Homo sapiens: one gene and its partners. The protein of the gene in region 6 purifies or fractionates together with the protein of the main gene of each other region. This does not show direct contact. Each region holds a gene or a part of one and is shown on either strand. Other genes may lie near its edges.

Region 1 (5,422 bases), on a different chromosome or scaffold from region 6:
AATCAAAGGACCTGGCGGCAAAGTCAACAACCCACCTCACCCCAGACTCACCTTCCCTGGTGTGGTAAGTGAACCACCAGAGGGAGGGAGGGTGCCAAAGGTTCTAAAACTTGCTCCATCAGCAAAGAATTTGGTAAAAGCAACAAAAAGTCTAACAATACCAATGATAAGTATTAAGCACCCACCAGGGGTCAGACTCTGGAGCTGGGGGAGACGTTTTATCACATGACTGGCACTAAAAGGCAGAAGGTGTCTAAACTATCTTTGGCTTCCCCTTTAGAACCCAGTGGAGTGACTGCAGACAGAGTAGATGCTGCGTAAGTCTCTAAACAAAGTATCCAAAGTTAAAAAATGAAGAATTGAAAGGATAAAAAGTTCAACCATTACAATACATAATGTAATTCTCAAGAAAAGGAAAACACTCTACTCCGTCTTGTCAAATGGAAAATCATTCAAGGATGACTACAAAATAGATCTGTACTTTGCCAAAGTCTTCAAATGACAAAGCTGGACTGAAGCACTCAGCACATGCTCTTACAGTGCGAGATGCCGGACCCACAGGGAGCAAGGTCTATCCATTTATTGAGCTGCCCAGCAAGCTCACAACTCATCCATCCAGCACTCACATATGAATGAGCACCCACTACATGCCCATCTTCCTAGCACCAAGAGTGTCACAATGAACATAGCCAAGTCCTAGCCCATGAAGCCACATTCTAGTGGAGAGACCCTAATGAAGAGACAAATACACTGATGTGTGGAGGCACAAATGTCAGACAGAAAAACAAAACAGAGCAGGGGAGAGAAAGGGACCTGAAGGCTTCTCTCAGCAGAAGACAGATGGAGGTGAAGATGCAGGTGTCAGACGTTTGGGGGTAAGTTCTCCAGGCAAAGGCCCAGGAAGTGTGTGTGACGAATATTCAAGGGACAACCCAGAGGACATGAGCAAGGACAAGAGCAGCTCACGCAGCAGGAGTGGCCTGGATGCCCACATCCGTGTAACACCTCAGGTGATAAAATCCTAGACAAGTGCAATGATTTCTAACAGTGATGAGCACTATTAAGAAAATAAAACTGGAGAGTGGACAAGAGTGACTAAGAGGCTATGTTACTTTAATGGCATAATTTATACAAGTTGGCTACAGGTATAAACAGTTGCTCTTCCAACTACTAAGAAATAATTTATCACTTACTACTCTGGTCTAATCAGCTTTAACAAAGAGTTTAACACTTAGAAGTTTAAGCTATCAAATCATCAATTTGAGTCTTAAAAAAAGAAAATCACCATTTAATCTATACTTGAGTCTTCTTCCATCAATAAGAGGCGTTCCTTCTACAACCTTAAAAGAAAAAAAATTTACAAATTTACTAAGCACATCACCATCATATATACATATATACACACACACATATATATATTCTAGTATCACTTAATTTTCAACACGCCCAAGAAGGAAGATATCTTGTAACATGGAAATTTAGTAATATGTTTCAAAAACCCTAGTGGCAAGCCCTTTAATGACGCAATTCCACCTTCAGGAATTTATCTTAAATACAAATTCAGTAATGACTTCCTAGTGTAGGACCAAGCAACTGCAACAGCCACGCTCCCTGCCACACTCCTGTGTACCACCACCTCAAGACTAAATGTGCTTAAATACCTTTATATCTAGTGGATCCCTAGCTCAAACATCTACCAATGGCTACCATACTCTTACAAAGTAACAGTATGATTCCATTGTCTTCCATTTGTGGGGTCCTTTTCAATTGGGCTCTACCCTGTTTATCCACTCTACTATGACCCAAGTGCTATTTGATGACGCATACTCATATGCTTACTTGCTCTGCTATATATTATATATATATTGCCCATCCAGTTATTTAACCATTTCATGTGATTCTTTTATCTGCAATAAGAGACTGTGAGAAACCAGGTGTGGTGACTCATGCCTGTAATCCCAGCACTTTGAGAGGTCAAGGTGGGAGGATCACTTGAGTCCAGGAGTTGGAGACCAGCCTGGGCAACATGGTGAAATCCCCTCTCTACAAAAATACAAAATACAAAAACTAGCCAAGCCTGGTGGCACGCGCCTGTGGTCCCAGCTACTCGGGAGGCTGAAGTGGGAAGATGACTTCAGCCCAGGAGGAGGTTGCAGATTGCACCACTGCACTCCAGCCTGGGCAACAGAGCAAGACCCTGTCTCAAGAAAAAAAAAAAAAAAGAGAGAGAGAGAGAGAGACTGTGAGCACGCATCATGCATCAGAACCATCTCCTCTCTTCATTCGGCATCACTCACAGCATTCAGCACAGAGATACCCACAGGCATGGTACCCAATAGAACTGGCTCAGTAAAAAGTCCACTTGCTCAATGCAGCCACGTTTTACCCCACAAAATAACTATTCAGAAATGTAGCAATTCATTTCAAACTGTAAAATATAAATATAGTATCATTTGCTCTGGGCTAAACTACTTTATCTTATCATTAGCTACAGATTTCATTAGCTAGCATTCCTCCTCTCCCAAGAGAAACGTAAAAGCTGTTTGAGATCACAGGATTAGTAAAATGCCACATGCTAATTTCAGATGATCCTTATCTATTAAAGGAGTCTAGTAAATGCTGTGTTAGGCTTTAATCTGTGAATATATAGATCCAAATATACAGTCAGCCCTCCGTATCGACGGGATCCACATCCATGGATTCAACCAACCAGATCCAAAATATTTCGGAAAAAATTGCATCTGAGCTGAATATGTACAGACTTCTTTTTCTTGTCCTTATTCCCTAATACAGTATGATAACTATTTACATGGCACTTACGTTGTATTAGGTATTATAAGCAACCTAAAGGCAACAAAGTATACAAGGAAGATGCACACAGGTTATATGCAAATACTATACTATTTCTTATCAGGGCCTTCAGCATCCTCAGATTTTGGTATGTACAGGAGGTCCTGGAACCACTCCCCAAGGATATCAAGGGATGACTGCATAATATTAATATATATTTTAATATATATGCTTTTAGTCACTTTAGTCTATGAGTATATACATATATGACTTTAAACACCAAAACTGCTTTCCTTGATACTCTGAAATCACCTTACCCTAAATGAATCTGAATTTAACTGTAGAGGCTTACTGTAGAAATGACTGAAGGTCTTTATCACAAAAATCCTTGCTAGAGCCACTAAAGTTATGGTCTCACTCCACAGTATTAAGCCTGCAGCTCTACCCTCCTATCACTGGCATTCACCAGTAAAACCGATCCTTTGGTTTACAGACAGTTGGCAAACTTGCAAAGCCCTAAGAATAAGATCTTTAAATAAATTATTTATTACTTAGGGAATCTCATGTTTCTTTAAATATATCCAAGTAAAGGATTCTACTGAAAGAAGAAAAAACTACACTTAGCAATGGAGAGACAAATTTTAAAGATATTGCAGGAATCTGAAAACAACGTAAAATGTTCTTGACAACAAGCTTCTGAAAGAGATGAAAATTAGAAACTTTTCATACTTTTTTAAAGTAAAAGATGTAGACTAAAGTCCATCGAGCCCAGTAGCCTATCAATTAATCATTTAAAATGCTGCATCTGAAATGACACATACTAAGAGTGAATTTTTTTTCCATAGCAACCTCCACTGAGAGTCGGCTACTTTGCAAAATAGCCTATTCTTTTCTATTTGGTTTGAAAAGTTACACAAGAAATCTCAATCAGATTTTTTTTTAAGTTCCTCCTAATAAGCAAGTGTTATACAGACAGCACAAGAGAAATGGCTTCATGAACTAAGTTTTGGGAATTATGACCAACAACAGCCTTTAACCTTTAAACTACTCTAAGGCTGGGCAGCATGGCACAGGCCTGTGGTCCCAGCGACTCAGGAGGCTGCGGCAAGAGGATCACTTGATCCCAGAAATTGGAGACCCGCCTGGACAATATAGTGAGACCTCATCTTATTAAAACAAAACAGAATTACCATAAACGTACCTTTCCAATTGGCAGTAGGTAGAACAGGACTTGAATCAAAAACCACAGGAGGTAGACCCCAAATACTCTGGTTTCCCATAACTCATACAAAGCTGGCAAAGGAGGAGGGAAATTCAGAAGACTGGGATCTTTCTGTTTACACATCAACAGCAACAGGAAGAGGAACACAGGCAGGCCAAACATGATGAGAAACACACCTGCAAACAATTCATGAACATTCGAGGCTCAAATTTCAATCTGGTTTATTTATTTAAGAATCATGTTAGATTTGTTAAGATCAGAACTCGTTATCTGGCTAACTGTCTGAAACCAATTTCTAATGTACCATCAAAAACTCCCATCTCTACCTGTCACCTCTGGTGGCCTGGCAACCATGGGCATCAAAGTAGTAAAAAAAATAAATAAATAAAAATAAAAAAAAAAAGAAAGAGGTCCAACATTGAATAGCTACACCCACCTCAGAAACCAAGCTCTAAAACATTTGACCTCCAACCACTAAGGAGCGAATGTGTTGAAACTCCAGCAAACTGAAGATCAGAACATCTAAAAATTATCAGCCTAATCTTAACAAAAAACTTTATATTCCTCAGTTTCTAACAATTAAAATAGTGTCACGTTCATGTAATGTGTGCAGATTTTAAGTGATGCTGGACAGCATCTGTAACAGGCCAGCTAGCCAAAGGTTATAACAAAATACAAAGCAATTAAGCCATGCAGGATTTTGAGCCATTTAGACAAGAAGTCTTTTCTTTTACTAGCTCATAAAATTTCATCAGTTCCACCCACTTAGTAACTCCAAAACTCTGCACACTTCAGATCTTTGACCCTCACAATCAACCCGCCTAGCAGGTAGGGCAGCCTCCGGGATCCCATTTTATGCAGGCAGCTGAGGCCCACTGCTGGCCCCTGCCGCCTCAGGTCTGACTATTAGCAGAGCTCTCTGTCCCTGATAAGTAACCATCTATGCTATACAAACTCCCAGATCAACCTTCCTTTATCACTTCTTTGTACTTCTGTGCTCAAAACCTCTGAACAGACTGCTAAAAGTTTTAAACACAGCTACAATGGCATCCTTTCTACTCCATAATCCCTCAAAATGCTCCCACCTCAAGCCTTTGCACCCACTGTTCCTTCTCTGGAAGGCTCTTCCACAGGTTCCCACCAGGCTCATTACCTTGCCTGCCTCAGATGTCTTCAGAGAGGCCTTTCCAGTTCACCTTGTGGCAACCACCCCTAGCTCACCCCACCTGCCCTCTCTGGGCCCAGCTCTGAGGCCTACCAGGTACTCCTCCAAACTCCAAGTCCTTTGCCCGGATGGGGGTCACTTCAAAGGTTCTCACTGCCAGTTCTTTTGCAACGTATTTTTCTTCCTTAGAATCTATTTCTTTTAATTTGACTTCTTCTCTTCTTGGACGAAGGCTATACTGTGTT
Region 2 (4,607 bases), on a different chromosome or scaffold from region 6:
AAATAATGACTTGGGGAAAATTAGTAGGAAGGATTTTTAACAAAAACAAGTAAAAGTGCTTGTATGTCAACGTTTAAAAAAAGAATTTATATATAATCTTTATAACGTGAAACTGTGGGAAAATTCAAATAAAAAATTTATTGACAGCTACCTACCAGTTTTTAATGCATTAATTCTTAATCATTCATTTCCTCTTCACTCCCATATCTATATGCATAAACAATTACTGTTACCAATCTCTTAGGGCAAGGAAGTTCATGAGCTTATACTTAACCTCTCTCCCTATATATTTAGTTGAGTGCAGAGTTCCAAGTTTGAAGGTCAAGATGTTTTGAGAGGTTTAAGACCAAAGAGAAAGGGAAATAATGAAGATGGAAAATATTTTCAAAGCTGGGCCATGGTTGTACTAGAAGCTAAGGGGTTGCTGATTTTATTGTGTTTTGTATTGCCTTTCTCTTTTGATTATTATTATTATTTAGAGGTTGAATTTTCGTTTTTGAAAGTGTGGTAAAACGCAAACATGAAAAACGTCTTAAAATAGCAACATAGCTTAAATATATACAAATAGGAAATATCTTATAGCAAGGGCCTAAAATAAATATCCAGCCAGATACAATATGTTAAGACTGACATAGCATTTCTTTAAATAAATGAAAATTAAATAGTAGTGTTTCTTACTATTTCTTTTGTTGTTTTCATTAAATGTGTTGACTTTGAAAAAGAACCGTTAGTCTAAAAACACTGAAGGCACTGTTAGCAGGATTGAGATTCAAAAGGCTAAGTCAATTGTAAAGAACAAGAATTTTTTTTAATGCAGTACAAACTCAGGAATTTTAGCTTATGTAGTTTCAAAAATAAAACAAAAAGCACCTGTGTCATCAACGTAACTCTAATTCAGGGCAAGCACCTACAATTGCAAACTCTCTTTAGGGTCCTTTTATAGCACAGATAACCGATTTAGTGTCATTTTCTCTCTTCTTTTGGTTCTACTGGAGCCCAGATACAAGTAATATGAACTCTGTTGTCACCTATGACCTTTCTATGATGAAAAAAAGATTAGACTGTTATCTCTTGACTGTGAGACAATGTAAAGTTCGTCTGGAAAAGCCTTTCAGAGTGATACTCAATTGTCCTAAGGCTGATAATCAGACGTGTAAGGTAATTCTAAAAACAATGTACAGAAATTTATAGAAAAACATAAGGCAACCAAGTTTAGAAATAAATTACTTCCAAAGAGGCTGTGGGTGAAATATCACTAATGCCTACTATTATTTTCATCGCTACTGTTTAGTTTATATTCTATAAACAAATTTTTTCACTCAAATCTATTTTTTATTCAAGGAATGATAGCTGCATAACTTATGACTTTACTACAAACAAAACTTTCAACATATTGCTCTATACTCTCCTAAATTTAAAGTGTTTGCTTAAAACAGCTTTCTCTATAAATTGTATAGTTTTACTGAAGCAAGGAAGGTAACATTTGCCATTAAAACTGAATAAATAGAAAAAAATTCTCTAGTAGTCTATATTCTAAAACATTGGATATTTAAAAAATATTAAAACTTAATAAGGAGTTATTTTTTGCCAGTAAACAGAATTTATTAGTAAGCATAAGTCAGACCAGCATGGCCCAAGGAGACAGTACTGCCAAAACCTTCATGAGTGCAGAACCCGCCACTTGTCCAAGGGGCCATGACTGGGAACGTACTTGACTCCACAACCATCAGGGATGAGGCACTTCTTGGCCACCATGTCTTCAAATTCGTCAGCATTAAACTTCGTGAAGCCCCACTTCTTGGAGATATGAATCTTCTGGCGTCCAGGGAACTTGAACTTGGCCCTGCGCAAGGCTTCAATCACATGCTCCTCGTTCTGAAGCTTGGTGCGGATGGACATGATGACTTGACCAATGTGGACCCGGGCTACAGTACCCTGGGGTTTTCCAAAGGCACCTCGCATACCTGTCTGGAGCCTGTCAGCCCCAGCACAGGACAACATCTTGTTGATGCGGATGACATGGAAGGGATGGAGCCGCACTCGCATGTGAAAGCCATCTCTGCCACAACTTTTCACCATGTATTTGTTGGCACAAATACGGGCGGCCTCCAGGGCTTCAGAAGACAGCTGCTCATATTCATCAGACACCATGTGGCCACCGAGTGGGAACTCATCCACTTTTGCCTTCTTTCTACCCAGGTCAAAGATGCGGATCTTGGCATCAGGAACCCCTCGGCAGAAACGAGATTTTGGGTACGGCTTGTTCTTACAATACCGGTAACAGCGAGCTGGACGGCGCCCCATGGCGACACAGTAACGTCGGCGGTGCCTCGAAGTCAAAATGCGCTCTCTTAACTACGCCTGCGCGCATTTATATACGTTGCCCCTCGTCCCTCGCGGGAACCATAGAGTCCTGAGGCCGGAACCATAGAGTCCTGAGGAGGATGTGACGACTCTCTTTCAGGACGTCCCAACCAGAGACGCAGGGACGTCTGGCGCCTCAGCGCCTGCGCCAAGTGGCGCGCTTAAGGTGAGCAGAGTCAGCTGTGGGTAGACTCCCCCTGGCGGCCAGGGAAGGAATTGGGCCCCGCCCCAACTGCACAGCTGCTGCTTCCTTTCTGCTAGCCATCTTGGGCTAGGAACTCTTGCTTTCAGCTTTGCTTTAAGTATAAAAGAGGTTATTTCCAGGCAGGAGAATCTCTTGAGCTCAGGAGTTCGAGGCCAGCCTGGGCAATATAGTGAAATGCTGTCTCTACAAAAAAAAAAATATATATATATCAAATAGCTGGGCATGGTGGCACATGCTTGTAGTCCCAGCTACTCAGGAGGCTGAGGTGGGAGGATCGCCTGGGCCCTGCAGGCAGAAACTGCAGTGAGCTGAGATAGCACCACTGCACTCCAGCTTGAGTGACAGAGGGAGACCCTGTCTAAAGAAAAAGAAAAAAAGAAATCCTAGAATTTGAGAGGAAAAATCCTTCCAGTTATTCAACATGCTGTTTCCAGTTTGGTCAGTTCATTTTCCAGAGCTTGTATCTCACTGTCAGCATTTGTAGATCAATTGCTGTTTCTTGGGTTATGTGGCCACCTTCCCTGGATAAAGTGGTTTCTTGGCATGAGTGCTTTGATGAGACTCAGGAAGAGATGAGAGGAAGAGAAGAGAGAGGGATAAAGAGAAGATATCTGTTGTATCTGTAGCTTGGCAATTGTTTTATAAACATGAAACTTTGTTTTTTCTTTATTTGGCCTAAAGAAATGATTTTATTATCAAAATGATATATACAAAATTGAAACACCAACTAGATTTTTTTTAACTTAAGGCTATTTGCATTTTCAAATGTTAAAGCTGCTGAAACTATATAAAAGAGTAACAGTTTGTGTTTTAGTAATCTTTTGCCCCTGAGAATAAATTTAAACTTTTTTTCTTCTCAGAGTTTGTAAAAATATTATGACAGGGATCAGAGTGTAGGAAAGGAGGAAGAAGAGAGAGGAAAAGAAATTAATAGTTTACAAACCCTACTTGCATTTTTCTAGTTTTCTTTTTTGTTTTAATGTTGTTTCACAAATCCATTACATCATGGAACAAAATCCCCCCAATGTGAATATATTCTGTCAATACTCTTTGTTTTAAGGGAGAAAAATAACTCCTGCCCTTAAAGTGAGTGGATTTTTACAAAATACTAAAGATAAAACAATTAAATCTCCCAATGTAGAAAACTTTCTGACCTTTAAGAAAGCTTTCTCACTTCCCTTTTCTTCCTTCATTTCTTCTTTCCCCTTTTTCTCAACTAGTTCCTGTTTAACATATTGAGATAAAGTAGCTAATACCATGTTGCTCTCACCAAGCTTACAAGCCTAGGAGAGGATATAGATACTTCTCATATATCATCATATTACCAAGTGTAAAATGTGCCAAAAAGGAAAAGCAAAGTAAGCCCTGAGACTGTGGGATGAGGCTGGGGATGAGACCTTGATCCAGACTGAGGAATAGACAGGAAAATCTTTATCAGAAAAGAAATTTCATGTAGTGACCATGGCACATGGGGTCTGATGTATAAAAGGCCTGAAGCAGGCAGAAATATGGAACATTTTAAGGAACTTAAAGTCAGGCCAATGTGACTGTGAGTGAGAAAATGAGTCACATAACATGAGCCCAGAGTGTGTGTATGTGTGAGAGAGAAGGGGTCATGCTTTCATACAGGGCCCATTTTACCAAGTTAGGGATCCTGATCTTTAATGTGAGGCCATTAAAGAGCTTTACTTAGGTTTCATCACTCTGGTTATGGTATGGTGAATAGACTGAAACCAGCCCAAAAAAGGTATGCAAGGAGATCAGAAAGGAAGACTTCGCAATACTGCAGAAAACACACTATAACTTGAACATACTTTAAAATATTTGACTTTATATACAAGTTAGTATCTTTTTTATACTACTACATGCTCTGAATCTATGATCGCGCCTCAGGGAGAGGTGTTTGTGAGGCAAAAGGAAGACGCCCAGAGTTTATGTGCCACGACACACTCACTTCCACTTGTCTGATCTCCCACCTGTCTAATGTTGCCAAAATGCTAGAATTATCTGACCAGCAGATGCTGTTTTGCTGTGGGGG
Region 3 (5,422 bases), 910 kb from region 6:
TCCTCTGTACTTCTTAAAGATTATTTTCTCCCTATAAAATCAGTCTTAGGTTTCCCACAAACCTTAACATTTGTCTTGAGAAATGTTTGTCTTGAAATTGTCTCGAGAAATCCCAACCTGAAGATGAAAGACTTGGGCATAATCTAGCACTTCCCTGGTCCCATGATACTGATTCCCCTTTATGATACCCTTTCCTTTAATTGCTCTGTGGGATACAATGACAGAAACATACAGTATGGAACTTTCCAGAGTGACATCCCTCCTTACATTATCTCATCAGACCCTCACAACAACACTGTGAGGAAGCACAGGGCAAAAAGTGAGCTCACATAATAGATGTAATCTGTGCTGAGGCCACATAGTAAGTGGCAAAATCAGGATTAGGTCAACTGACTCCAAATCCAAAGTGTATTCCATTCCACTCTGTCTCAAATACTTAAAACCCAAATGCACATGCATGCACACACATGTGAAAGTGCATGAGAGTGCATGCACACACATACACACACACACACACACACACATGCATTTGCCATTTAAAATTACTGGGCTCTTATACCCACGCTACCTTCGCTATAGTAACTGGGGCCCTGTAACCAGGGAACCAGCCATAGGAGATATTGAGGGGATAAAGAACAGAGATATATTGTGCCCTAGATGCCCTGTTTTTTGGCAGCAGTTCATTCTTTCGCCGTTTGTGACCTCCCATAACAGCTGGAGTGGTCAACCAGAGATGCAACCAACTGCAGCTCCAAGATGTGTCCCCTGCCTGATAGCTGACCTCAGAATGATCAGAATGAGGCCAGACACCATTGTAAGTGGAAGCCTTCCAGTTCCATAGGAAGTACAGAACTGAGCCACATAGAGAAACACACTGGAATTGCTGGCATTAAAGACTACACAGAATGCTGGCCTCTGACTGCCCTTTCTTGGCTGTCCTGTGGAGACCAGAGACAGTCCTAATAGAAGAGGAAAAGCTGGGGTGAGGGATGTCTGCTATTCTAATGAGGCTGAAACAAGGACTTCATCTTTGGTTGTTATATAGAACCCTTATATATGTTTGTCCCTTCAGTTAACAGTAAGGTATCTCTTCTAATAAGTGATTAATTCTAATATTCTCTTCCAGTGACAGGTGATTGGAAGCTTGTCCATAGAGACGAAAGTAAACCCACATGATCTGAAGGGAAGGGGACAGGTGAGATGATACAGACTGGGGCCGAATCCTGATCAGGCCAGGAATTAGGAGAGAAGTACAATTTATTGGTTTATCTTGAAAGGGGAGTCATGGAGATTTTACTGAAGATTTTATAGAGAGATAAGGAAGAGAATTTTCACTAAACATCAGAGGCAGCACTTGCTGAATTTCTCTCAGTGTCTCTGTTCTTCCCTCTTGTAAATCTGCTGCCTCATTCCTCATCCATCTCCCTCCCCACAGCCCCACAACCTCATCTATGGGTTGTTTTTCAACACTGATTAGTCCATGAGACCTCAAGGACACAGATTCTCAGATCCTCCTCCTGTGTTGTTCAAGTCCCTCTATCTCTTGGCCTTCAGTGGAGCTCCACTTCCCATCCTAATCCACTGCCCATACCAAGGTCATATTTAGATTTACACACTGTCAGCCTCTTTCAGGGTAGAAACCTTGTCTTGTATTTCTTTACATCTCCTACAGTGCCTATCAAAAATGCTGTCTGAAATTCGCAAAATTCCTGGAGATTTTTGCGCTGAGTACCAGATAAAATCAATACGTGAAATTGCTTTGAAAACAATAAAATAAAGTAGAGCTATAGTCAGTCATGAAGTAAGAAGCCCAGAGCAATACTCACATAGATCATAAATGTTGCAACTCGGTTTCCTGACTTCATTCTGTAGAGGGGGCTGCTTGGTGACTGAGAAAAAAAAAAACAGAACATATTATTTTATGCAGATGGCACCAGAGGGACAGGCAGGATTCCACTATTAATACAAATAGAAGTAAAATGGGGGCATCAAAGATGGGATATAGTTCTGATATACACCTACTGGAGTATGTGCCCGTCTTTGCTGGCAGGTACTCAATACAATTTTTTTTTTTACTAATTTATTAGATACTTATATAAAAGAATTGTCTACTACCAAACAGAACTACTTGTCAGTAGTGAAAGTACTATATGAGGGGTTAATTGCACCTTTGAGTTCTCTGTGAAATATAGAAATTAATATATAAAATATTACAGACAATTATTCTGTAGAAATACCAAATCATAAGGCCAGAGTTCCAATTACTTGCTGAAGAGACATACTCTTTTTTTTTTGTCATGGAACAGTTTGAGATATGATTTATATTCCATAAAATTCACCCCTTGTAAGCCTACTGTTCAATGAGTTTTCCCACAATTGAAGTTTAGAACACAGAACACTTCCATCTGCTGAAAAGCTCCTTCATGCCAGTTAGGAGTCAATCCCTGCTCTCACCTCCAACCTCAGGCAACCCACTTATCTGCTTTCTCTCTATAGCATTCCATTGTGCAGATATATCAAAATTTGTTTATCCGTTCACCTGTTGACAGACATCTGGGCTGTTTCCAATTCTTGGTTTTTTTTTTGTTTTTTTTTTTTTGTTTTTGAGATGGAGTCTCACTCTGTTGCCCAGGCTGGAGTGCAGTGGCGTGATCTCAGCTCACTGCAACCTCTGCCTCCCAGGTTCATGCCATTCTCCTGCCTCAGCCTCCCAAGTAGCTGGGACTACAGGCGCCTGCCACCATGCCCAGCTAATTTTTTTTTTTTTTGTATTTTTAGTAGAGACGGGGTTTCACTGTGTTAGCCAGGATGGTCTCGATCTTCTGACCTCGTGATCCGCCTGCCTTGGCCTCCCAAAGTGCTGGGATTACAGGCATGAGCCACCGTGCCCAGCCCCAATTCTTGGTTATTACAAATAAAGCTACTATAAACTTTTCTGTACAAATGTTTGTAGAGACATATTTTCTTTTTCTTTTGGGTAATATACATAGGTGTGAAATGGCTGGATCATAAGTAGGTGAATCTTAAACTTTTTAAGAAACCATCAAACTTTTTTCCAAAGTGTCTGTATAATTTTGCATTCCCACTAGCAGTGTATGAGAGCTTCAGTTCCTCCACATCCTCACCACCACTTGGTATAATCTTATTTTATTGTAGCCATCATAAGAGAGTGCAGTGCTATCTCATTGTGGTTTTAATTTGCATTTCCCTAATGATGTTGAGCATCTTTCCATATGTTTCTTAGCCATTCATTTATCCTTTTTGGAGAGGTGCCTACTCAAATAACTTTCTGTCCATTAAAAAAAATTGAATTATCTTATTACTGAGTTATAAAAGTTCTATAGATATTTTGGATACAAGTTCTTTACCAAATATATGATTTGCAAATATTTTCTCCTAGTTGGTGGCTTGTCTTTTCCTTTTCTAATGATGTTTTTTGAAAAGCAAAGAATTTTAATTTGATAAGGTCCAATTTATCAGTTGTTTTCTTCTTTTATGGATCATACTTTGGTGTCATATCTAAGAAATCTTTGCCTAACCTGTGGTCACAAAAATTTTCTCTTATGTTTTCTTCTAGAAGTTTTATAGTTTTACATTTACATCTATGACCCATTTTGTGTTAATTTTCATATATGGTGTAAGGTAAGGGTGTAAAGTCATTATTATTTTGCAGATAGATATTAAATTGTTCCAATACTGTCTATTGAAAAGATTGTATTTTCTTCATTGAATTTCCTTGGCACCTTTGTCAAAACCAATTGATCATAAATGTGTTGGTTTGTTTCTGGACTCTGTTCTGTTCCATTGACATATGTGTCTCTCCTTACACTGGTACCACACTGCCTTGATTCCTGTAGCTCTATATTAAGTTTTGAGATCAGATAGTGTATGTCCTCCAATTTGTTCTTCTTTTTCAAAATTGTTTTGGCTGCTCTAGGTTTTTTGCATTTCCATATACATTTTAGGATCAGCATGCTAATTTCTACAAAAATAAACCTCCTGGAATTTTTATAAAGCTGGGGTTCAATTTATAGATCAATTTTGGGGAGGTCATTTTAATCCTCAAAAATCACTACTGGGTATCTACCCAAAGGAAAATAAAGTATTATATTACAGAAAAAACACCTGCACCCAGATATTTATTGCAGCACTATTCACAACAGCAAAGTCATGGAACCAACCTAAATGTCCATCGATGGTTGATTTGATAAAGAAAATAAGGTATATATACATAACAGAATACTATCCAGCCATAAAAAGAATGAAATAATTTCCTCTGCAGCAACATGGATGGAGCTGGAGGCCATTATCCTAAGTGAACTAACTCAAAAGCAGAAGATAAGATATTGCATGTCCTCACTTATAAGTGGGGGCTAAACAATGGGTACACATGGACATAAAGATGGAGGTAACAAACACTGGAAACTGCAAAATGGGGGAGGGTGAAAGGGGAGTGAGAGTTCAAAAATTACGTGTCAGGTAAAACATTCAATAGTTGGGTGATGGGTACACTAGAAGTGTGGTCCCCACCATTACACATGCAATACCCATATAACAAGTATGGCTGGGTGCAGTGGCTCACTCCTGTAATGTCAGCACTTTGGGAGACTGAGGTGGGAGGATCGCTTGAGCCCAGGAGCTCAAGACAAGCCTGGGCAACATAGCAGGACCTTGTCTCTACAAAAAAAATTTTTTTAAATTAGCCAGGTGTAGTCCTAGAGCTACTTGGGAGGCTGAGATGGGGGGATCACTTAGCCCAGGAGTTCAAGACTGCAGTGAGCTATGATGGTGCCACTACACTGCAGCCTGGGCAACAGAGCAAGATGCTGCCTATAAAGAAAAAAATAAATACATAAATAAATACGTAAATAAAAAACAAGCACATGTACCCCATGAATCTAAAATTTTAAAAAAATTATTTGCTATTATCAGCAAAGATGGCCAGTTGAGATCATGAGGCTAGAAGAGTTACTGGAGGAAGGACAATCCTCACTAGGAAGTCCCTGAGTGGAGCAGTCCGATGATTCCATGACAAGCCACATTCTTCCCTCACCAGCAAATTTTAGAAGGGAGATGGTGGCAGACAAGAAAATGAGTCAGCAACAATATGCTTGAAACTAAGGCTTTCAGATATTTCTGGAAAAAGAACCTTTGTTCTAAGATTTCACTTAGTATTCCCTGAGAGCCTACAAGAGCTCTGCCTCAGAGAAATAAATAATGCCCTGGCTCCCTACCCCAGGGGATTGGTCATTGACTCCACCATTACCGTAGCATGGTCAAAGTGAGGCTCATAGTGTCCTCCGATGCCATAGTTCACCACCTGCAGATACTCTGCATAGGGAGGCCGGACATCAAGGCCTGTGAGGGCAGCAATGCGGTGGTTGAGGGTCACCAGTTTTGGGTCAACAGTGTCCTTCAGCCA
Region 4 (4,992 bases), on a different chromosome or scaffold from region 6:
GTATATGAAGAAGATGTTTGGAAGCCACCATAACCTCCGCCTTGATAGCCACCACTGCTGTGGCCACCATGATAGCCACCTGGCTGGAAACCTGAATCTCGATAACCACCATCTTGGTAGCCACCTCCTCCACCACTCCCTCCATCTGTCCAGCCTCCTTGATGCTTATTTCCTCTTCCTCCCCCTCGGCCACCATGGTCATAGCCACCACGTCCACCTCTCCCGCCTCCTTGTTCATGACCTCCTCGTCCTCCGTATGAGGAATGTTCATAGCCACCTCTCCCTCCTCCTCGGCCTCCTGTTTGCTGCTGGGGGCCATCTTGCCTCTTCTGCCACGGTGGCATCTCTGGGGGTGGAGGTTCGATTTCATTGGGTCTACCACCTCTGTCAGGCACCCTGCCCATCAACACCTACAGAATAGGAAAGATATTTTAAACTTTTATTTTATGAACAGAAATAAATGCATTTGGAAAAAATTAAAGGTACTCTAATCACCTTATTGATGGCACAGGCAGTCTTTTCTCTTATAGAGCCGCTGCTTGTCCTTAAAATCTTTGACAAGTCCTGCCTTGCAGCCAAAAGATGGGCAACAGAAATAGTAGTTTTAGGGGATAAGACTGAACGTTTCGGCTGGTAAACCTTGGCTAATTTTTCTGTCTGGCTCTGTTGAAAGAAAAGTGTTCAAAGAGAAATGTCAATTTTCAAAATGACATAAGAAACACATATTAAATAAGTTAAAGGTCTCCAAAATATCTGATAATGATATTTACTAGGCTCTAGATGGTAGGAAAAGTTATATACTCACTACTGCTCCTACATAGTCAAGAACTACCTTAAAAGTACAGCTGCCAGACTTGTTGACACAACAAGGAGTGACAGGGACTGTGGGGGCAGGGGTGGAGTGAGAGGGTGCCCCTTTAGGGTTATGAGGCCAACGTGATAAAAAGGTTCCCCCATCATTGGTCTCAGATCAAACATACTCATTTTCTCTATTTAAATATAAGAATATAAAGCTATTTCAACAATTTTGCTTTTTAATTTTCCTATCTTTGGTTTCTATGAGGTAATAACTATCTGCTGAATGACCAAGGTCTTTACCTGGATTGTCTCATTTAGCTGAAAAAAAACTTAAGTCTTACCAAATTCTCCAATTGTCTATAAATCATACCAAATCCAATATTTCTAACTTCTATTAGCAAATTAAATTATTTAAAGTAAACAAGTAATTTGAAATCAATTTATTATTTTAGTAATTTTCAGAATAACTCCATTTCTCTCATAATAAGAACTTCTCTCTCCAATAAGAACTGTAAAATTCAGATTTGTTAAAAAATAGAAAATTGAAAAATAAATGTTTTCATCATTGCTGAATAGTTGAAAGAGCCACTACTCAATAACTCACTAAGGAAAAATCCCTATGTGTGTCTTCTATGTACTTCTCCCATAGTTGCCAAGTAGCTAAATTGTTTAGATGTTCAGGGATCATGTCTATAAATAGTCTGCTCTTTTAAATTATTTAATGTGTACCTTAGCTCTGTCAGACCAGCCAAAGGATTGTACAGTGACATCCAAACGTTTTATTAGCAGCTTTCTCCGGACTTCATATTCATTGGCTATGGCTTGGTTAATTGCTTCTATCTTTTCCTGAAGCAAAATTAAAAAGACTAGTTAGAGTTTAAATCTGCTTGATTCTCTGTCCCAAAAGGGCAAAAACTACGTCTGTGTCATTCATAACTGAGATCCCGGCCATTTAACAGTCAAAAGTTCTTATTCCATATAATATACTAACAATTAATGAAATGATAGGTGACAAAAAGCTGATTCACAAAACATAATGAAGAGTATGTGAAGTACACAATTCTTATTTATCTTTCCCATAATTTACTGTGTGAAGCTCAGCCCAGTGAAGTTTTTGGCTTGAAGGCAATCCATTTGGCAACGAGAAACATGCACCATACTTAATTTCAGTTTACTTTTATCAGCTGTGTGAAATATTTACAAAGTATGAGAAAAGTGCTTCTAATCTTACACAAATAAAAATATTCTGCAGAAATCCTGAGATTCACAAAATGATTCTAAGGGTGTTCAACTAGAAAACTATGTATAAGAAAACATAATTTAAAAAGCACAAAATGTAAGTGTTGACATGAAAATCATAAACTCTATAGTTCTTTACAAAGTTTACTCAAGATGATTACTACTCACCCAGTGGGCTGGTCCCATTGGCTTCTTCAGTAAAGGCTTTCCCACATGATTAGGTGGAACTTTTGCTAATGTTTCCTTTAACTGACACAAAAACATAAATAAATGAATAAAAACTCTAAAAGTAAAACATCCTCATCTTCCCAATTCCCATCATATCTTGCCATCAAAAGAAGATTCCTGACAGAGGCAAAGGTGGAGGATGTTTTGAAATGCAAATGTAAAAGACCCACAAGATAAAGACACTCACTGGTCCCACTCCTCACGCCTACAGAAGTCCTTCATTGCACCTAGAACAGTGCCTGACAACAGTAGGCACTCAATGAACATTTGCTGAATGGATGAATGAACACACAGGAAAATATGGACTATGGATACACTGCTGCTCCCCTGTAGAGTTCAGCCAAATTTGTGCATCATGGTGCTGGTCTACCCCACAATGCAAATGTACCAATTCTTAAGAGTCCAGCAGATAAGCGTATAGGGAATAACTGTGCTTTAACAAATACCGTTCTCTTCTACTCATTTTTGTTAAAATTGCTTGTTCCTAATTAATTATATAGAAAATCTTAACTGATAATGTGTGGTATAAAAATAATTCTAATTTCTTTTCACATACTAGATTATGTTAGCAGTCAACAAATCTATTTTGTCAATTGAAGCATGAGGTTTGAAGTGACTGGATTAAAAAACAAAAATATTAATATCCTTTCTGTCCAGTCAATGGGGAGGAGGGTGGTAACATTTAGTGATAAAGAACTTAAATTGACTGTATCAAAGTTCAATGATAAAATAATTTTTAAAAGGACTGAAATCTTAATCCTTTTTACATTATATCTAGCTTACTTTAGCTTACAAACCAGTGTAAAGTTTCCTTTTTGAAAAAGAAACATGCTAACATGTTTTTAGGAAAATACTAAAATACTAATTTATCTTTAAGGCATCTAGGATTTAAAACCCAAAACTCATTTCGTAACAATTACTTAATAATATATGCACATTAGGTTCCCATTAAGAGAAATTAAATTAATTGCTTCATTTCAAACAAATGTAGGACTATGCCTTTAATACACTACAATTTGGTACTAAAGGTCTTACTTTTTTTTCAATCCCGCTGAAGAATTGGAACATAGTTATATTGGCTGGAGGTTTGGACATTCCTAGAGCAATACATATGCCTTTCAACTCTTGAAAGACCTCACTACCGCCTCCTTCTTGAGCTTTTTTTGGAGGAGCATTCACACAGAGCATTCTGGCAGCTTCTAGTTCTGAGATGAGGTATGCTGAAGTAAACAAAATAAGATTTCAAAATGAGATACAGCTATAGTTATAGTCATAAGTCTGGAGTCACAACTATATAGACCTATTGATATGTAACTGTTAAAGCTGCAAGAATGGATAAAAACAAGAAAGAAAAACTACTTTTACCTGCAAATGAAATAAGAAATAAACTGGTTATGTAATTCAGTTATTTAAGCGATATATAATGTTTAAATGTTAATTTTAAAATAAGCGATTCTCTTTGAAACCGAAGGATCGAGGTAAGTAACATCTAAAAATTTGGAATCTTGAATTCTGGTATTAAGGAACCTCCAGAACAGGGGTTGGCATCTGTTAAAAATTTTGCAAAAGAAGGCAGGTGACCAATTTTTAATGACAATTAATTTTTTTTTTTTAACTTCTCACTACTTGTGAGCATCAATGACACAACTACCTTGCTCTCTTGTCTCCCATTAATTAGGAGCCTGTCCAGAAGAGGTGTGAAACAACATTTATAAGAAGTCAAAGCTTAACTCACAGGAGAAGCAGGAAGGCACCCCAGAGCTCCTTTCCCATGGTCTCCAAATCTTATGTTGCCCTCTGGCTAATCAAAGAGAGCCCTCTTTCATCTATATTCTTCTCAGGACTCCCTTCCCCCTACTTTCCTCACCCCATTCCCTTCAAAACAACCATAAAACCTTCAAAGCACTTTTTGGCATGGTTCCCTTTGTGTCAGTATCATCCCCTTGTGTGCTGATTTCAGCCTGGTATAATGGGGGCTGCAATCTGTTTCAGGTAATTCAGTTGAAGGTATAAATATTCAATCTCATTCCTTTAACATTCCCAAGGACATTTCAATTTTTATAAAAGATGATTAAGAATCATTTGAATCTTAGGATTTCTGGTTATGTGACAAAGTGAGATTCTTCTGACAATATAACAAAACCAGTTTTGGGAAAAGATATTTTCAAGGCCCTCAGGTCCTATTAGAAGTAGAAAAAAGTCAACTTGTGTATCAAATTTCCTATACCCAAAATGTAATGCTAGAAGGACAGAGGCCATAATTTTGGCAAATCATTTCTGAAAGGCTGCCAACTCCTGTTCTAAAACAATAAATACAGCTAAGTTTCTGGAAAGGTCATTCTAAATGGATTTGACACTGTAAAATCTTAACATGTTCCATACAGCAAACTGTATTTATGAGTTAAAACGTCAAAACAGTAAAACCCCACTGTTAAGACAACAACCACTGTTTTTGTACATAAGGTTTCATTAGGACACTGCCACACTCACTCATTTATATATTGTCTATGGCTGCTTTCATGCTGTAACAGCAAAGGTATGTAGTTGTGACAGAGAACTTAGGGCCACAAAGCCAAAAATATTTACTATCTGGCCCTTTTAGAAAAAGTTTGCCAACTCTTGTTCTAGAAAATCATATACTATATGATTTAATATATTGGTTCTGTAAATTTGGGATAACATAGTTCAGGTATTCACAAAATTAGGTTACCAATATAATTATCATGA
Region 5 (5,422 bases), about 37 Mb from region 6:
CATGTTACTGAAAATGCAAAGCAAATTTCTAAAATTTATAAAGCTGAACTGCAATATTAACACCAAAGTTTTACACTGAGTTTAGGATCTCTTCTAAGAGTTTTGTAAATTTAAAAAGGAAAATCATACCTGTATTGTTCCTAAGGTGAGCAGAAAACAAAATAATACACTATCATTTGCAATTATTAAATACTAAAAGGTAAGAAAGCTAAATCCAGTTCAACTTCCTCATTTCACTCTTAAGAAAACATTAAACATTCACATAAAAATGTTTAGAAATGGGAAAACAGGTTCATGCAAGTCACTTATATAACAGGAAAGAAGCAAACACAAAATAATTCTCACAAATAATTCTACCCTTAATGTGCTTTGAAACATCAGATATTATAGCTTATTTTCAAAACAGAACAAAGTCAGTATGTTTCTTAAATGTCTTTATAATTAGACAATATTCTCTAACACAGTCAACGAGGCTATATGGCAGTTCTATTGCTATAAAAAAATTAAGCTTCTAATTTTCTAGATATTAACTCCCTTTTTTGAAAAACTGATACAATGCCTGGTTCACAGTTGGGCCTCAAAATGTCTGTTGATTTTGTTGGTGAATTAATCTTACACATAATACTAGTTTTAATTTTTCTGTTGATTAGTGTCAAGGGCAATAGTTTCCTCTCTTTTTTTATGTTGTAAAATGACCAAACTAATAAGCATCACTAAGAAGAGAGAACCAACATGAACATGGGGAACAAAAAAAGCTCCTTACAGCTGGGCGTGGTGGCTCACACCTGCAATCCCAGCACTGTGGGAGGCCCAGGTGAGCGGATCACCTGAGGTTGGGAGTTCGAGACCAGCCTGACCAACATGGAGAAACCCCCATCTCTACCAAAAATAAAAAATTAGCCGAGCGTGGTGGCGCATGCCTGTAATCCCAGCTACTTGAGAAGCTGAGGCAGGAGAATCACTTGAACCTGGGAGGCCGAGGTTGTGGTGAGCCAAGATCGCGCCATTGCACTCCAGCCTCGGCAACAAGAGCAAAACTCTATCTCAAAAAAAAAAAAAAAAAAAAAAACTTTTTACAACTAGGCCTCCCAAATTCAAGCCTTAACCATCTCTATCCAAAACTGTTTTAATAATTTCAATTAAGTTGACAATCAAATTAAAGGCCAGATAATTTGACACACTTAATGATAACTGTAATTACCATGCTGCTTGTTGATTAGATATTAGCAGTAAGCTTTCTGGTGATATATACTAACTTTGCTGAATAGCCAAACTAAGTTTTTATAGTTTTTCTAAGTCTAGAACCTATAAACAGCTTAAGTATCAGGAGTCCTCACAATGGCTAAGAAAATTTAATCCAAGCCAAAGGGATCTAAAGTCAATTAACCACAGCTGAGATTTTCTATGTTCCCATTCTCCCTTTCACTCAGAGTCCTTATGTTGACTGGGGGCGGTGGCTCACACCAGAAATCTCGGCACTTTGGGAAGCCAAGGCGGGTGAATCACTTGAGGTCAGGAGTTCAAGACCAGCCTAGCCAACACGGCGAAACTCCGTCTCTACTAAAAATATAAAAATTAGTCCCGTCTCTACTAAAAATATAAAAATTAGTCAGACGTGGTGACCTGTTTGGTGGTGTGCATCTGTAGTCCCAACTACTCGGGACGCTGAGGCAGGTGAATTGCATGAATCCAGGAGGCAGAGGCTGCAATGAGCTGAGATCATGCCACTGCACTCCAGCCTGGGTGACAAAGTGAGACTGTCTCAAAAAAAAAAAAAAAAAAAAAAAAAACAAGGGTCCTTACGTTGCATTAATGCATCCACATTATTCCATGTACTCACCAGGATTTTTTGTTATAAACAAAAATACCCACTCTGGTTAACTTATTAAAAGATTATCAGTCAATTTACAAAAACAACAGGAAGATTTAACAAAGAAAAAAAAACAGAGGAAGCAAGAAACATCCAGAACTCACAGCACAGAATACTGTGCTTAAAATGCTGCTGCAAGGAGTATTAATTAACTTATACACACTACTGTGACACTTAACAGGCCAGGTGTGGTGGCTCACGCCTGTAATCCCAGCACTTTGGGAGGCTGAGGCGGGAGGATCACTTGAACCCAGGACAGCCTGGGCAACATGGTGAGACCCCGTGTCTACAAAAAATAAAAAAGCCGGGAGTGGTGGCAAGCTCCTATAGTTCCAGCTACTTGGGAGACTGAGGTGGAGGGATCACTTCAGCCTGGGAGGTCAAGGTCACAGTGAGCTATAATCAAGCCACCGCACTCTGGCCTGGGCAACAGAGACAGTCTCAAAAAGAAAAAAAAAAAAGCACTTAACACACTTTATGAATACAATATGGCACATCTATCTGCCCATTAGAGTGAGAACTCCTGAGTATTTTACTCATCTTTCCATTCTCAAATGCAAAGAGTATGTGGCATATAATAACTGTCCAAATGTACGACTGACATCTTAAAGCAGTGGTCGGCAAACTTTTTCCGTAAAGGGCCAGGTAAGTAAACATTATAAGCTTTGTAAGCCACACAGTCTCTGTTGAAACCATTCTACTGTTGTAGCAGGAAAGCAGCCATAGATAATATGTAAACAAGTCAGCTACGATGTGTTCAAATAAAACTTTATAAAAACAGGCAGTAGGCTGGGTTTAGCCCATGGACCACAATTTGCCAAGTATTTTAACAAGAATCAACACTTTTCCTTTCATAATTTAACTGAAGTTGGTACCTACAAAGATATGAGCTCACTACATATGACTATCTGTAATGGATCAATTTTGGATATGACTTTGGGTGGGGGTAAAAAAAGGACCGAAGACATGTAATATAGATGAATAATGAAAATAACAGGGCTGGGTGCAGTTGCCTGCACTTTAGGAGGCTGAGGCAGGAGGATCACTTGAGGCCAGAAGTTTGAGACTAGCCTGGGCAACATAGTGAAACTGTATCTCTAAAAAAAATTAAAATCAGCCAAGCATGGTGGTGTGCACATGTAGTCTTAGCTACTCCAGAGGCTGAGGTGGGAGGACTGCCTGAGCCCCGGAGTTCAAAGCCCTGGAGTTCGTGGCATGGAGCTATGATCATGCCACTGTACTCCAGCAGCAGAGAGGTGACAGTGACAGAGAGAAGGAGGGAGACAGGGAAAAAGGGAGGGACGGAGGGAGGAAGGAAAAAGAAAAAAGAAGTATCTATTGGGAACAGAGTTGGAAGAAAGGGCAATTCCATTACCCTTGCCAGTTGACTGGTTAGGTATAGAATGTGCCCCAATCCTGGCCAATGAGGCTCGAAAGACATCTGCTTGGGGGTTTCTGGAAACAGTTCCTCTTATTCCTTTGGATACTGCCCTGTCTGGATGGGATGCAGCAGCCAAACTGGGACAAGGGGCTAACTGCAGGCTTGACCTCCCAGGCTCAAGTGATACCCCAACCTCAGCATTCTGAGTAGCTGGGACTACAGGTCCACACCACCGCTCCTGGCTCCTTTGCAGCAGCCAAATTGAGATGGGTAAGGGCTGTCTTAGTATGAAGTTAATAGGGAAAATCACAGGGAAGAGAGTTGGAAAGAGAAGGAGTCCTTGATGTCATTATTGAACCATTCTTGAGCCTCTGGACTTTTAGTATGCAAGACATTAAATTTTGGCCAGGCATGGTGGCTCACACCTGTAATCCTCCCAGCACTTCAGGAGGCCGAGGCAGAAAGTCCAAGGCAGGAAGTCTGAGGCAGGATGATCATTTGAGACCAGCCTGGGCAACATAGGGATACCCCGTATCTACAAAAAGGCTTTTTAAAAAATTAGTTGTTGGCCAGGCACAGTGGTTCACACCTGTAATCCCAGCACACTGGGAGGCCAAGGCGGGCAGATCACTTGAGGTCAGGAGTTTGAGACCAGCCTGGCCAACATGGTAACACCCTGTCTCTACTAAAAATACAAAAATTAGCCGGGCCTGGTGGCATGTGCCTTAAATCCCAGCTACTAGGGAAGCTGAGGCAGGAGAATCGCTTGAACCCTGGAGGCAGAGGCTGTAGTGAGCTGAGATCATGCCACTGCATTCCAGCCTGGGCAACAGAGCGAGACCCTGTCTTGGAAAAAAAAAAAAAAAATTAGCTAGGCATGGTGGCACACGCCTGTGTTGGCAGCTACTAGGGAGACTGATGTGGGAGGAACTTAAAGGATCACTTGAGCCCAGGAGGTCAAGGCTGCAGTGAGCTGTAATAGTGCCACTGCACTCCAGCTTGGGTGACAGAGGAAGACTCTGTTTTCAAAAAAAAATGAAGAAAAAAATGACATTAAATTTCCTCATTGTTTAAACCAGTTGGAGAATTTTCTGCTATTTGATGCCAATGCATCTTAAAGGATCTAAGGGCTCAAAACTGAAGAGCGCTCACTTCACAAATTTACCTGCAGTCAGTCCTAGTTGACTTAAACTTTTCACAAATAAATTAAAAAAAAAAAACATTTAAGGTCCTGAAAGCCATAGAGATTATCTACAACTCAGAAGAAAACAGTCCATTATCTCAATTACTAATAGCTTTATAAATTCTATAATCTTAGAGAAAATAAACAATGAAGTACCTGTTTCTTCAATACTGTATCTAAAATATCCTTTCAACAGGATGTTTTTTCTAAGGAGTTGGCAAACTTTTTTTGTAAAGAGCAAGATGTGGCTATTTCCCACACCAAATTATAAACCTCCTTTTTTAAAAGACACCATTTCTCATTGTCAACTATATGCCATATGCTAGAAAACAAAAAGTAAACTTCATCTTCAATCATTAATCAAGAAAATCTGTACACAAACAAATTTGCACATACACACACTTGAGAATTAGCGTAGGGAATTCTATTGTGTGCTTTTATTCAAATGATGAAAACATGAGAAATATGATTTACTCAATGTTTAACACAAGTTAATAAGCATCCTTTCAATGTCTGTTACAATATAACCCTATTTTAACAAGACTTTAAAATCACAAATAAGGGATATAAAGTATATGTTTATCCCTGCATACCTACTGGCATTTTCTATAAACAAGGAATTGCCGACAGCAGCTACCTATGGAAAACAGGACTGGGAAAGGGGCTGGGGTGTTCCAGGGAGTAAGGAGGACTTTGACCTTTTCCTTGACATTTTTCTGAGTTTTTAAACTTTGCCATAAAATATATCACTTTTATAGTTTTTTTTAAATGGCTTAAGCTATACATTCAATATAAAGATATACACCAGGAACTTAAAGTAGGAAAGGCAGGATTTCTCTAAAATAGGCTAGAAATTGAGGAACTCTCTGGGGCCAGATTGGACACCTCTATCATCAAAGCAGTACGCACACCCTGGCTGCAGCAATCAAGGAAGTTACCAGAACAGTCTTCAGCTGGATCAGTAATGCCATGAGACTTAAAATAATCT
Region 6 (5,422 bases):
GTCAGAGGTCCTGGTCAGCCCACATGTCCCCCACCCGATCATGACTGGAAGCACCGGGGCAGCCAGAGGGTCGGGAGAAGCCATGGCCTGGCTGGCCAGTGGGTGTTCCATCAGGAATGCTTCCGCGAAGACAAGGCAGAGCCCACGCAGGCACATGTGTGCCCCTGGCTGGATACTCCTGGTCAAAGTCTGCGTGTGGGCTAGGGAGAGGCAAGCAGGCTGAAGGCAGGTGGGCGGGCGAGTCCTGGGCCACGGCAGACAGGGTCACACCCTCCACAGGAGGAGGTGGTTTGTGCTGTCGTCTCGACCCACAGTCTCACTGCTGCTGCCGCCCCCACTGCTGAGTCGGAAGTCCTCATAGCCATCACCTCCACTGATAACCAGCATTTTAGGCCTGGCAGGGGCGGGGCCTCGGTGCCAAGGGGAGTCCCGGTGCTCCAGTGATGGCAGCTTCTCGGGGCCTGGGGGCAGAGGGGAGGATCTGTCAGCTTGGGGGCGAATGGAGGCTTCACTGTCCCATCGGGGCCTGAATTCCCACACCCCAGAAGATAGGAAGGAAGATGTGCACACTTCCTATGGGGGAATCCCACTTTCTGTTAGCTAGGAACTTATTTAGAAAGAAATGCCCACTTCTTGGCAGCCAGACTTCTTATGTCCCATCTGTAATCTCTAGTCAGGAGTCACATAATTTCCCAAGGTGACGCCACTTCTGATTTTTTTCTTTTTACAATGTAAGTGCCCTGTAAGATGCCACTTTCTATCTCTCTTGATTACTGCACGCAACGTCCTTGCATTAAATAAGCCTCCTACTTCCAACAGCCCTTTCCCAGGTAGCTTAAGTCTTCTGTGAACCCAGACAACTCCTGACCCGAGGCTTTATTGCTTCCTGATTTCCACAGCCACTTCCTCTTGGGAATATCATTTCTTGTCCTGCCAAAGCAAGACTTTTCTGGTTGTGGCCTCCTGATGTACCTCATTTCCTGCTGTTTCACTTTTTTTTTTGAGACGGAATTTTGCTCTTGTTGCCTGGGCTGGAGTGCAATGGCACATACTCTTGGCTCACTGCAACCTCCGCCTCCCTGGTTCAAGTGATTCTCCTGCTTCAGCCTCCCGAGTAGCTGGGATTACAGGCGCCCGCCACCACACCCAGCTAGTTTTTGTATTTTTAGTAGAGATGGGTTTTCACCATGTTGGCCAGGCTGGTCTCGAACTCCTGACCTCAGGTGATCCACCCCCTTCAACCTCTCAAAGTGCTGGGATTACAGGTGTCAGCCACCACGCCCGGCCATATTTTTATTTTTATTTTTTTGAGACAGGGTATCACTCTGTCACCCAGGCTGGGGTGCAGTGGTGCAATCTCTGCTGACTGCAGCCTCGACTTCCCTGGGCTCAAGTGAGTCTCCCACCTCAGCTCAGCCTCCTGAGCAGCTGGAACCACAGGTGTGTGCCACCACACATGGCTAATTTTTGTATTTTTTGTAGAGATGGTGTCTCACCATGTTGCCCAGGCTGGGTCCTGAACTCCTGGGCTCAAGCGATCCTCCCACCTCATCCTCCCAAACTGCTGGGATTACAGGTGTGAGCCACCGCGCCTGGCACCCGGCTGTTTCACTTTCTAATTATCAGTCCATTTTCTGTGCTAGTGCCATTCTATGTTGTTTTCTGTTGCTATTTCTATTTCCTGCTCTGTGCATCACTTCCTGATTCCACTTCCTGCCCTATATATCATTTCTAGTCCTGTGCTATTTCCTGGTGCATATAGGAAATATATACAACAGGACATATTTTCTATATACATATTCTATTTGTGACATATTCTACCTCTTAGGTTATAGTTCCCTCCCTGTCTCTCATGACATTTCTCTGGATAGAACTTTATATACACACAACACATGCAGGTGCGCACACACACACACACACACACAACTATCCTAGATTTCATTTGGACACTTCCGTGGTGTATTTCCTGTCACATATGCCACCTCCAGCTCTATGTGACACTTTTCCTCCCTCTTGAAAGCTCTTCTGGCAGGATAGTGGGGAGTCCTAAACCAAATGTCCATGATCCCTAGCTTGGGGTATGATGCACTGACCCACCTGTGTCTGGGGGAGGTGGTGGGGTTGGGCAGAGCAGGTTGAAGCCATCTGGCAGCTGGACTGCAGCCAAGAAGCGGACGTGGCCGGTGTGTCCCTGGCCGAGGCCTGTGGGACTGAGTGGTGCCCGTGGGCAGCTGACAGTACCGGGCGAAGTGGGCATGGTGAGGACGACACCAGCACTGGTGCCCACCCACAGCAGCTCCTCACACACCAGCAGCGCTGTGATTCGCAGACAGGCAGCCTTGTGCTGCCGGATGATGGCATCCGAGCCTGGGGTGGGAGACAGACCACAGCTGGGGCTGAATTCTGGCCCTGGCTCAGCCGCCTCTACGATCGGGCAGAAAGGCTCCAAGGAGGGTGCTGTGGTAGTTTGAGGTCAGTACCTGCCAGCATCCTGTGCACGGGAGGAGTGACGTCTACTTCTGCCAGCTGCTCAAAGGTGTCTGGATGGTAGAGACACACGTGGGCACTACCTTTCAATGTCACCCACACACCCAGGCTGGAGTCCACCATGCAAGCCACGCAGCGGCTTGAATCCTGACCCACGTAAAACATGTGCTGGGGAAGGCGGGGGAGAAGATGGGTCATTGGCAGGCCTGCCTCCCTTGGCCCACCCTAGCCTGGAGCTTCACCAGTGTCCATCCCTCACAACTCACACTAGCGTTGGTCCTTGGTCTGATTAACCTTTCGAAGCTTGGTTTCACCAGCACCTCCCAACTTAGTTCTCAGGAATTACAATGGAGGTGCTTTTTCCCCATTAAACTTGAGTGATTTAAGGATCAGAGAACTTCAATGCTTAAAGGGTTCTAAAATCAGTCACTGGCCTCCCCCTGGACAGGTGGGGAAGCTGAAGCCTAGAAGGGAAAGGTCACACAGCAAGTCAGTCACAGAGCTGGGGCCTGAACCCAGGGCTTTGGACTCCTGCCCAGCCAACAATGGAATAAGTGAGGGAAATTAAGGGAACCCGTTGCCCCTGGATACTTCTGACATGTGTGCAAGTGACATGTGCAGCAATAAATGCCAGAGTCTAATGCTAATGGATGTTGACATCAGAAAGGACTCTTGTCCTATCCCCAAAGGACCCTAAAACCTGAGTTGAGAGATAGGGTGGGCAGGAGGATGAATAAGATTCCTAATGTATATGGGACACTTACTGTATTCCTCATCAGCTACAGAAGAAATGAGGATCGAAGGAGGACAGGGACTGGCCAGCGTCACTCTGTGGTCAGAGGAAGGCCCTAGCCCTCTGCTGGATGCTGCTTATGCCCCTACCATGGTCTCCATCTCCCTGTCACACGGACCTAGCTCATCCCATGGCACCAATTCCATTCCCCCACCCCCTGCTACCTCCAGCTGCAGCGTGTCAGGGCTCAGGACAAGGACTCGGTTCTGGCAGCCACACCACAGCCGCCCACCCACAGATACCATCTTGGTGATGGGGCTCCCCTGGGTGCCCAAGGTCACTGATTTGAAGTTCTGGGGGTCCCAGAAATGGCCTGGAGTGGGGTAAAGAAAACAGGAAATTCACTCCAGTTCTAAATTTGAGCCTCGGTCTCCCCTGAAATGAGATGTTAACATTCCCCTTTTATAAGCAAAGAAACCAAGGCCCACAGAGGGCCTGGGAGTTGCCCAAAGCCACATCTCCAGGAGAGAGCCCCAACACCAGTAAGGGGACAGGGGCAGGGTGTGGGGGAGGGCAGATACTCACCTGCTTCCCTTTGGTAGACCACAAGCTCTCCATTGGCCAGAGACACAAACACCTGGTTATTCAGATACCTGGGTAGGGAAAAGAGGAAGCAGTAAGGGAGTTCAGGCAGCCAAAGTGGGTCACCCAGGACCAGGGGAACCACAGATAGAATGGGTATGGCTCCCGAGAGGCCACCTCTTCCCACCCCTTGTTCTCCAGGTGGGGGTTGCCTGAGGCTAAGAAAAGGGGGTGACTTGCCCGAGCTCACACAGTGTGTAAGAGGCACAGCTAGCCTAGGGCCAGGCCTCTGGCTTCCAGCCTCCACACAGAGGAGGGACAGTAGAGCAGGGGGACCAGATGAACAGAAGGAGGCCTGCACGTGTGGCTGAGAAGAGTCTAGATAGGAAGGGCCACCCTGGGGCCTTACAAGATGCAGGTCACAGAGGCCGCATGCTGGAGCTTCATGCTGTTCCTGCGGTCACGGATGCTGTCGGAGGACTGGTACACGTGGACACTGTGGATCGGGGTATGCACCTGGGACAAATGCTTGGGGCACACCAGCCCCTGGAGTCATCCCTCCACCTCTTTGCCCCTAGCACCACGTCTTCAATGCTGGGTGCCTGCCCAAGGTACTGAGGTCCCACAGCCTCCCTGGGATTGTCAGACCCACTGACATCCCTGGTCAGCAGTACCCCTGAGGTGTGACCCAAAGCCCTCCTGCCTTGGCTCCAGGGGACCACATGATTTCCAGAGCAGGGAGCTCAGAGTTCTGGCACTGTGTCCCTAGTCCCTCCCCTGTCCCTACCAGCCATCCTCAGTGCCCAGCCACACGGAGCTCTGGTAGGCCTCAGGGTCGACACTCAGCAGGTCCTCAAGGCTGCCCCGGGTGAAGGAGCCGTGGCTGGAGCGGCGAAGGGCTCTCCCATCCATTGGGCTGGTGCCGCAGGGACCACCAGGCCCAAAGGAGCCAGACAGTGGCAGGAAGCCTGGCTCCTGCTCCTCCTCTGAGCTGGTGGTCTCTGCCGTGGCCTCCTTGGAACTCGGGGTCTCCTCATCTGAGGGAGACAAAGGTCTCTGTCTCCATTTCCCTCTGCCAGGCCTGGGACCTGATATCTTTCTAGGCCATGCATCCCTCCTGGCCATGCCCCTCCGGAAGGCCTCTCAAAGCTGTTCTTCCCCGGCCTGCTCCGGTCTGCTGCCCTGCTGCCCTGCTCACCGACAGCTCAGCACTACAGAATCCTTGATCTTGCCTGGCCCCTCAGACCCAGTGGCCACACCGTGGGTCCCCACTCCACCAGCACCCCATCTTCCTTAGCTGAGTGCTCCAGGGTCTTCATGATCCCGCCTGACTGTCCCACTGTCCTCTGGATCCTTGGTGTCACATCCCCTGCCCTCATTGCTCTGTGTGCTAACATCCTGAGGTCTGACGCCATGCCTTTGCCCTACACTGGTCCCTCCTCTCCCCCTCCTCTGGGCAGTCCACCCTGCCTGCCAAGGCCAAGTTGGAGGAGATGGCCAAAGCTCACTGCCAAAGCTGGAGGAGATGGTGGACCGGCTGGCCTGGCTCTGCAGCGTCCCCGAGGGGCTGGGCGAAGACTCATCGTCAGAGTCACTGTCAAAGGGCACCAGCTCTGGGCG

Evidence for each region.
Region 1: the proteins of ARHGEF17 (region 6) and LBR purify together in Homo sapiens (affinity purification with mass spectrometry, with the first as the bait; one large-scale study listed by BioGRID). This does not show direct contact.
Region 2: the proteins of ARHGEF17 (region 6) and RPL10L purify together in Homo sapiens (affinity purification with mass spectrometry, with the first as the bait; one large-scale study listed by BioGRID). This does not show direct contact.
Region 3: the proteins of ARHGEF17 (region 6) and P4HA3 purify together in Homo sapiens (co-immunoprecipitation; one large-scale study listed by IntAct). This does not show direct contact.
Region 4: the proteins of ARHGEF17 (region 6) and FAM98A purify together in Homo sapiens (co-immunoprecipitation; one large-scale study listed by IntAct). This does not show direct contact.
Region 5: the proteins of ARHGEF17 (region 6) and RDX purify together in Homo sapiens (co-immunoprecipitation; one large-scale study listed by IntAct). This does not show direct contact.

Annotation. Positions count from the first base shown.
Region 1 is NC_000001.11:225,413,993-225,419,414, forward strand, and holds part of LBR (delta(14)-sterol reductase LBR), read right to left. Parts: coding exon 5,271-5,422; intron 4,189-5,270; coding exon 3,992-4,188; intron 1,341-3,991; coding exon 1,286-1,340; intron 1-1,285. UniProt on the Homo sapiens protein: Catalyzes the reduction of the C14-unsaturated bond of lanosterol, as part of the metabolic pathway leading to cholesterol biosynthesis.
Region 2 is NC_000014.9:46,649,433-46,654,039, forward strand, and holds RPL10L (ribosomal protein uL16-like), read right to left. Parts: upstream 2,350-4,607; 5' UTR 2,305-2,349; coding exon 1,660-2,304; 3' UTR 1,578-1,659; downstream 1-1,577. UniProt on the Homo sapiens protein: Testis-specific component of the ribosome, which is required for the transition from prophase to metaphase in male meiosis I. Compensates for the inactivated X-linked RPL10 paralog during spermatogenesis.
Region 3 is NC_000011.10:74,271,719-74,277,140, forward strand, and holds part of P4HA3 (prolyl 4-hydroxylase subunit alpha-3 isoform 1 precursor), read right to left. Parts: coding exon 5,267-5,422; intron 1,890-5,266; coding exon 1,827-1,889; intron 1-1,826. UniProt on the Homo sapiens protein: Catalyzes the post-translational formation of 4-hydroxyproline in -Xaa-Pro-Gly- sequences in collagens and other proteins.
Region 4 is NC_000002.12:33,585,035-33,590,026, forward strand, and holds part of FAM98A (protein FAM98A), read right to left. Parts: intron 3,486-4,992; coding exon 3,301-3,485; intron 2,287-3,300; coding exon 2,206-2,286; intron 1,645-2,205; coding exon 1,528-1,644; intron 664-1,527; coding exon 496-663; intron 411-495; coding exon 1-410. UniProt on the Homo sapiens protein: Positively stimulates PRMT1-induced protein arginine methylation. Involved in skeletal homeostasis. Positively regulates lysosome peripheral distribution and ruffled border formation in osteoclasts.
Region 5 is NC_000011.10:110,288,193-110,293,614, forward strand, and holds part of RDX (radixin), read right to left. Parts: intron 1-5,422. UniProt on the Homo sapiens protein: Probably plays a crucial role in the binding of the barbed end of actin filaments to the plasma membrane.
Region 6 is NC_000011.10:73,362,623-73,368,044, reverse strand, and holds part of ARHGEF17 (rho guanine nucleotide exchange factor 17), read right to left. Parts: coding exon 5,311-5,422; intron 4,840-5,310; coding exon 4,590-4,839; intron 4,299-4,589; coding exon 4,212-4,298; intron 3,874-4,211; coding exon 3,806-3,873; intron 3,594-3,805; coding exon 3,445-3,593; intron 2,656-3,444; coding exon 2,481-2,655; intron 2,368-2,480; coding exon 2,098-2,367; intron 462-2,097; coding exon 265-461; 3' UTR 1-264. UniProt on the Homo sapiens protein: Acts as a guanine nucleotide exchange factor (GEF) for RhoA GTPases.